2 linked regions of the Homo sapiens genome follow. The protein of the gene in region 1 interacts with the protein of each later gene in a pairwise test. Each region holds a gene or a part of one and is shown in the gene's direction. Other genes may lie near its edges.

Evidence for each region.
Region 2: the proteins of NDEL1 (region 1) and ZNF211 interact in a two-hybrid assay, tested with the Homo sapiens proteins (2 studies listed by BioGRID and IntAct).

Annotation. Positions count from the first base shown.
Region 1 is NC_000017.11:8,456,384-8,459,883, forward strand, and holds part of NDEL1 (nuclear distribution protein nudE-like 1), read left to right. Parts: intron 1-3,500. UniProt on the Homo sapiens protein: Required for organization of the cellular microtubule array and microtubule anchoring at the centrosome. May regulate microtubule organization at least in part by targeting the microtubule severing protein KATNA1 to the centrosome.
Region 2 is NC_000019.10:57,636,168-57,639,667, forward strand, and holds part of ZNF211 (zinc finger protein 211), read left to right. Parts: intron 1-3,500.

The DNA of each region.
Region 1 (3,500 bases):
TGATTTACTCAACTTTAAGCAAAGATATTTTTATTTTTATTTTTTGTTCTTTTAAAAAAATTACTTTAACATTCTTGAACTTTTGTTTCTGAATGTATTAGGTTATATCTTTTTTTTTTTTTTTTTTTTTTTGAGAACGGAGTCTCGCTTTGTTGCCAAGGCTGGAGTGCAGCGGCACGATCTCAGCTCACTGCAACCTCTGCCTCCCAGGTTCAAGCGATTCTCCTGCATCAGCCTCCTGAGTAGCTGGGATTACAGGCACATGCCACCACACCTGGCTAATTTTTGTATTTTTAGTAGAGACGGGGTTTCACCATGTTGGCCATGCTGGTCTTGAACGCCTGACTTCAGGTGATCTGCCTGCCTTGGCCTGCCAAAGTGCTGGGATTACAGGCATGAGCCACCATGTCTGGCCAGTATTAGACTATATCTTAACTCGCTGTTCTCTCCCTTTCTTCCCCACCACACTCCCACTCCGCTTTCCTTTTCTGAGCCCTCTACTAGCTGTGTGAGCTCTCTGTTGGTTGGTTCTAAAAATGGAAAAGTAGTCAAACAGCATTTGTAACAATGCACATATATGTGTTATTTACTGTGTAATCACAGAGGAGATGCTGGACTTTCAGATGGGTCTTTATATTTGTGCCATTCAACAAATGTGTTTTGAGAATTTTGTTCTTTAACTGTAATTTACTCAAAATCATACTGGGTTTTTAAATATTTCGTATTGTAGCTGACTGTACGCTGCTTTCTTTTCCTAGCATTTCTGTTTCCCCTTCTTTCTTTTGAGTAGAAGAAACCTACACCTTTCTTTGCTCTCGGATCTTCTAGCTTCTTCTTCACACTCTTTGTGGGATGCCCTGATGGGCTTCGAGGGCTGCTGCATTGTTGTCGCCCTCGAATTTCTCTCCATTTTACTCTTGGGTTAGTTCTGCCTGTTCCTCACCCCACGTTGTTGTCTGTCTTTGTTCCTTGTTTGTTTTGCTTTAGTACTTTAATTTATTCAGAAGTGGTGCATGAAAGTTTAATTTGGCATCCTTGTATGGTTTACACATTCAGCTGACAATCCGTCTTCTAAGAGTTATCAAAATAACGACCTCCAAAAGTCATCAACACTTTGGGTCTGCTGGTGTCCACCAGCCCTTGTTGGCTTTTATGAATATTTCATTTATGCCTCTTTACACGACTTTGTCCACTGACTTGAACTGGAAGCCCTTCTCCACTCTTGCATGCCTTCACAGAGAAAATCAAGGCCATTTGTTTTAAGCTTCTTTGATTTCTTTTCTCATCTTTTGTTATTACTCTCCTATTATTACCTCTATTTGTAGCCATTCCTCCTTTTTGTCCCAGTGGTAAAAGTGCAAATTCCTGTCCGTGGCTAATTTTGTCCATCTGTGCTTTGGATCTCATTTCTTCCAACCCTTAAATCTTTATTTCTCCTGTATTTCAGCCTTTTACTATATATGCGTTAATATTTATGTATAATGTTTATGTATTACACATTATATGTTATGTGTTATACAGGTATACTTTGATATTTCTGTATTACATGTTATCCATATAAATATATGTAATACTTATGTGGTACATATTACATACTTTAAAGCTTCTTGAAAGCGTGTCCCCATTTATTGTTAGCATTTTGACTGCATGCACACGCCCCAGACACTTTAGCCTGGGCTCTGTCCCCTGCTTATGCCGCTAAAACTGCTCACTGGTGATCTCAGTGCTGTCAAATCCTGTGGATGCCGTTCTGTCCTAATTTTACTTGAAGCATTCAACACTGACCGTTTTTTTTTTTTAATGCCCTCTTTTCTCTCCTTCTCTGATGCTGTTTCATGGCTGCTCCCAACTTTCTTTCCATTCCTCTTAGTCATCTTGTTGGGTCTTCATCTGCTCACCCTTTCGATATTGGTTTTACTCAGAGTTCTGTCCTTGATTTTCTGATCTTAATCACAGCCATAGTTTCATCCACCCCTGGGTGTGGATGTCTTTCAAATCTTAATCTCTAGACCACCCTTTCCCCCCTCAAAAGACCTGGTGCTCGTGCTTGGATGTCTCACTGATGTCTCAGACATAAGTTGTGCCTGCCGTGTGATAGATACTCAATATGGATTTGAATGAATGCGTGTCTTGAATATAGGAATTGAATGGCTCTCAATTTCTACTGTGTGTGTGTGTGTGTGTGTAGCTTTAATAAGCTGCTGAATTATTGCTGAATTATGCTTATTCAGAGTTTGTTTTACAAGGTCATTACCTCTCTTCCTTTTTTCTGTTGTCATTTTAGTAGGTCATTGTACTTTTGTCATAGGAAAGAAGGAGAAGAAAAAAGTTTGTCTGTTTTTGTTGCTGTTTCTTTTTTTTGAGACAGAGTCTCACTCTGTCGCCCAGGCTGTAGTGCAGTGGTGCTATCAAGGCTCACAGCAATCTCTGCTTCCTGGGTTCCAGTGATTCTTGTGCCTTAGCCTCCTGCGTAGCTGGGATTACAGGTGCATGCCACCACACCCAGCTAATTTTTTTATTTTTTCTTTAGTAGAGACAGGGTTTTACCATCTTGGCCAGGCTGGTCTCGAACTCATGGCCTCAAGTGATCCACCTGCCTTGGCCTCCTAAAGTGCTGGGATTACAGGAATGAGCCACTGCACCCAACCATTGTTGCTGTTTCTGAATAGCTGTTATTGAAATGTGGGGGGAGGAGGTCCAAATGGATTCTCAAAGTGAAGTATATGTTACCTGTGGATTTAATTTAGCTGTGCATTCCCAGTCCTTTACTGTCATGGATAATAGACATGAATTGTGTATATATATATTTTGCCATGGATAGTATTTTTCTTTTCGGAGAAGGAGGGGTTTGATTTGGGCAAAGTGTTTATGGGAAAGAGACAGCTGGTGAAGTGTGAGTGTGTGGAAATACATGAGAAACGCCTGATCTCTCCATGTCATCTGCGTTGGTAGAGCCCTGTGCTTGCCAGGTGTTGTGGTGACAGGTGCAAAACAAGGGTGCCCAATTTAGAGGTAAATGCTAAAAGGCCAGTGTCATTTGCGGGTGAATTATTTAATTACAGACAAAGGGTATCAGTTAAACATTTTACAGAGTGCTGTCAGAAATAAAATAGCTTTTAATTTCATGTAAAGTGTTGTAAATGTTCTCATCCATTCTCATGCAGTAGAAAAAATGAAGAACCTAGAGAAAGAATTGGCTGCCGTAAAAAAAATTCTCAAGTGATATTTTTGGGTTTTTTAATAGTGCTTGCTCCCAAAACACACCCTGCCCCCCAACACCAACTAACAGTCTACAGCTTAGAAACGAGCAATGGATAGGGTCAAGAGACCTGGGATCTGCTGTTCCACCTCCTGTACCACACTTTTTTTAGTTGTAAGGGGAAGATTATATGTATTTCCTTCAGTAACGCTAAGAGGAGGAAACAAAATATTCTGAGGTCATTAGAAAGGGAGCATAAGTATTCCCCCTTTTTATTAGAAAGTTGATTGATTATGGCTGA
Region 2 (3,500 bases), on another chromosome or scaffold:
AAATGTTTTCTCTTATTCTGTGGGTTACGTTTTTAGTGTGTTGATAGGATCCTTTGATGTACAAGTTTCTCATTTTGATGAATTCAGTTTTACTTTTTTACTTTTATTGTCTATGCTTTTTATATCATATCCAAGGAATCATTAACAAGTCCAATGTCATGAAGCTTTTTCCTTGCTTTAAGACTTCTATAGTTTTAGTACTTACATTCAGATCTTTGATCTGTTTTGAATTAATTTTTATATGTGGTGTCAGGTAAGGGACCAACTTCATTCTTTCACATGTAGATATCCAGTTTTCCTAGCATCATGTGTTAAAAATTTGTCTTCTTTCTCCTGGTCAAAAATCATTTGGCCAGATATTTGAGGGTTTATTTCTGGGGTCTCTTCTAGTCCATTGATCTATATGTCTTTCTTTATGGGAGTACCACACTGTTTTAATTTCTATAGCCTTGCAGTAAGTTTTGAAATTACGAACTGTGAGTCTTCCAACTTTCATCCTTTTCAAGATTGTTTTAGCTATTCTGTGTCTCTCGATATTTCAAATGAATTTTAGGATGGATTTTTTTATTTCTGCAAAATAACGTCATTTGGATTTTGATAGGTATCGCACTTTCTATAGATTACTTTGGCTAGTATAGACATCTTAACAATATTGAGCACTCTAGTCCATGAGCAGGCATGTGATCTATTTTATTAATGTTTTATTTAATTCATTTTAGCAAAATTTTGTAGTTTCTAGTGTACAAGGCTTTTACTTGTTTGGTTAAGTTAATCTTTAATGTTTTATTCTTTTTGATATAAGTGGAATTGTTTACTTTTCAAATTGTTCACCATTAGTGTATAGAAACGTAACTGATTTTTGCATGTTGTATTTATATTCTCCTATTTGCTGAATTTCCTTATTAGTTGTAACAGTTTTTCAGTGGAATCTTTATGGTATTCCATGTATATCATCTGTGAGCAGGGATAATTTTACTCCTCCTTTCCCATTTTGGTCCCTTTTCTTTCTTTTTCTTGCCTAATTGCTATGTTGAACAGAAGTGCTAAAAGTAGCATCCTTATCTTGTCCTTAATCTTAGAGGAAAATCTTTCAGTCTTTCATTGTTGAGTATAATTTTAGCTGTAGGTTTTTTTTTTTGCATATGGATTTTATTATGTTTAGGTAATTTCCCTGTATTCCTGGTTTTCTGAGTGTTTTCCCCACGAAAAAGTGTTGCATATTGTCTAATGCTTTCAGTGCATCAGCTGAGATGATCGTTTTAATTTTTTTAGAGATGGGGTCTTGCTATGTTACACAGGCTGGTCTTAAGCTCCTGGCCGCAAGCGATCCTCCTGCCTCAGCCTACCAAGTAGCTGGGATTACAGGTGTAAGCCACCACTTTGATCAGTTTTTGTTTGTTGAACCATCCTTGCATTCCAGGAATAAATTCTATCTGGTCGTAGTGCATAATCCTTTTAATATGCTGTTGAATTCAGTTTGCTAGTGTTTGGTTGATGGTTTTTGCATTAATAATCATCAAGGATATTGGTCTGTAGTTTTATTTTCTTACACAATCTTTGTGTCATTTGGAATCAGGGTAATGCTGGCCATACAGAATGAGTTTAGATGTGTGTATGCTACAGTTTTTTGAGAGAATTTGAAAAGGATAAGTATTAGTTCTTAGTTAAATGGTTGGTAGAATTCATCTGTGAAGCCATCAAGTCAAGGGCTTTTCTTTAAGGTTTGTCTTTTTTTTTTTTTTTTTTCTTGAGACAGAGTATTGCTCTGACACCCAGGCTAGAGTGCAGTGGTGTGATCTTGGCTCACTGCAACCTCCACTTCCTGGATTCAAGCAATTCTCCTGCCTTGGCCTCCCGATTAGCTGGGGTTACAGGCACATGCCACCACACCTGGCTAATTTTTGTATTCTTAGTAGAGATGGGGTTTCACCATGTTGGCCAGGCTGGTCTTGAACTCCTGACCTCAGGTGATCCACCCACCTCAGCTTCCCAAAGTGCTGGAATTACAGGCATGAGCCACTGCACCCGGCCAGGTTTGTCAATTTTGATAACCTTTTCAAAGAAACACCTTTTGGTTTTGTTGATTTTTTTTTTATATTGTTTTTCTCTTCTCTATTTTATTTATCTAGACTTTAGTCTTTATTATTTTTTTCCTGCCAGCTTTGGTTTTAGTTTGTTCCTCTTTTTATAATCCCTTAAGTTGTAAAAATAGATTGTTGAGTTGAGATCTTTCTTCTTTTTAATGTTTATAGCTATAAATTTCCCCTTTAGTACTGCTTTTACTGCATCTCCAATTTATTTCCCTTCTGATTTCTTCATGGCCCCATTGGTTTTTCAATATTGTATTAATTTCTACAGATTTGTAAATTTTTTAGTTTCCTTCTATTAAGAGTTCCCAACCTCATCCCACTGTGGTTGGAGAAGATACTTTGTATGATGTGTGTCTAAATCAAATGAGGCTTAATTTATGGTCTGTCCTGGAGAATGTTTTTGGTACACATGAGGGGAATGTACATTCTGTTGTTGTTGGGTAGAATGCTCTTTATATATTTGTTAGAGCTAGTTGGTTGTTTAGGTCCTCTGTTTTCTCTCTTCTCTCTGATTGTTCTATCCGCTGCTGAGAGTCAGGTATTGATGTCTCTAACTGTTATTGTAGAACTATCCATTTCTCCCTTCAGTTCTGTCCATTTTTGCCTCATGTGTTTTGATGGTCTATTATTAGGTGCATAAGTGTTTATAAGTGTTATATCTTCTTGCTCTACTGAACCTTTTATTAGTATATAATATCCTTTTATATCTCTTGTTACCCTTTTTGATTTAAAATCTCTATTGTATGATATTAATGTAGCCATTCTTACTCTTTTTTGCTTGCTATTTGCATGGAATATCTTTTTGTAGGCTGTCACTTTCACCTCATTTACATCTTTGGATCTAAAGCAAATCTCTTGTAGACATCATAAAGTTGGATCATGGGTTGTTTTTATTTTAACCCATTCTGCCAATCTTTGTCTTTTGGCAGAGTTTAAGCTAAAAGTTGGGAGCATTTAAGGCATTTACGTTTAAGGTAATCACTGATAAGGAAGGGCAGACTTCTATCATTTTGCTCTTTGTTTTCCCCATGTCTTATAGCCTTATAGCTTTTTTGATCCTAATTTCCTGCATTACTGCTTCTTTTGTGTTTGGCTCACTTTTTTTTTTTTTTTTTTTTAGTGAAACTTCCCTTGTCATTTCCTTTATGTACTTTTTTTTTTTTTTTTTTTTTTTTTTTTTTTAATGGTGTCTCACTCTGTTGCCCAGGCTGGAGTGCAGTGGGGCGATCTCGGCTCACTGCAACCTCTGCCTCCCATAATCAAGCGATTATCCTGCCTCAGCCTCCTGAGTAATCCCTCCTGGGATTACAAACGCACACCACCACACCCAGCTAATTTTTGTATTTTTAGTAGAGACAGGGTTTCACCATGTTGGCCATACTGGTCCCAAACTCCTGACCTCAGTTGATC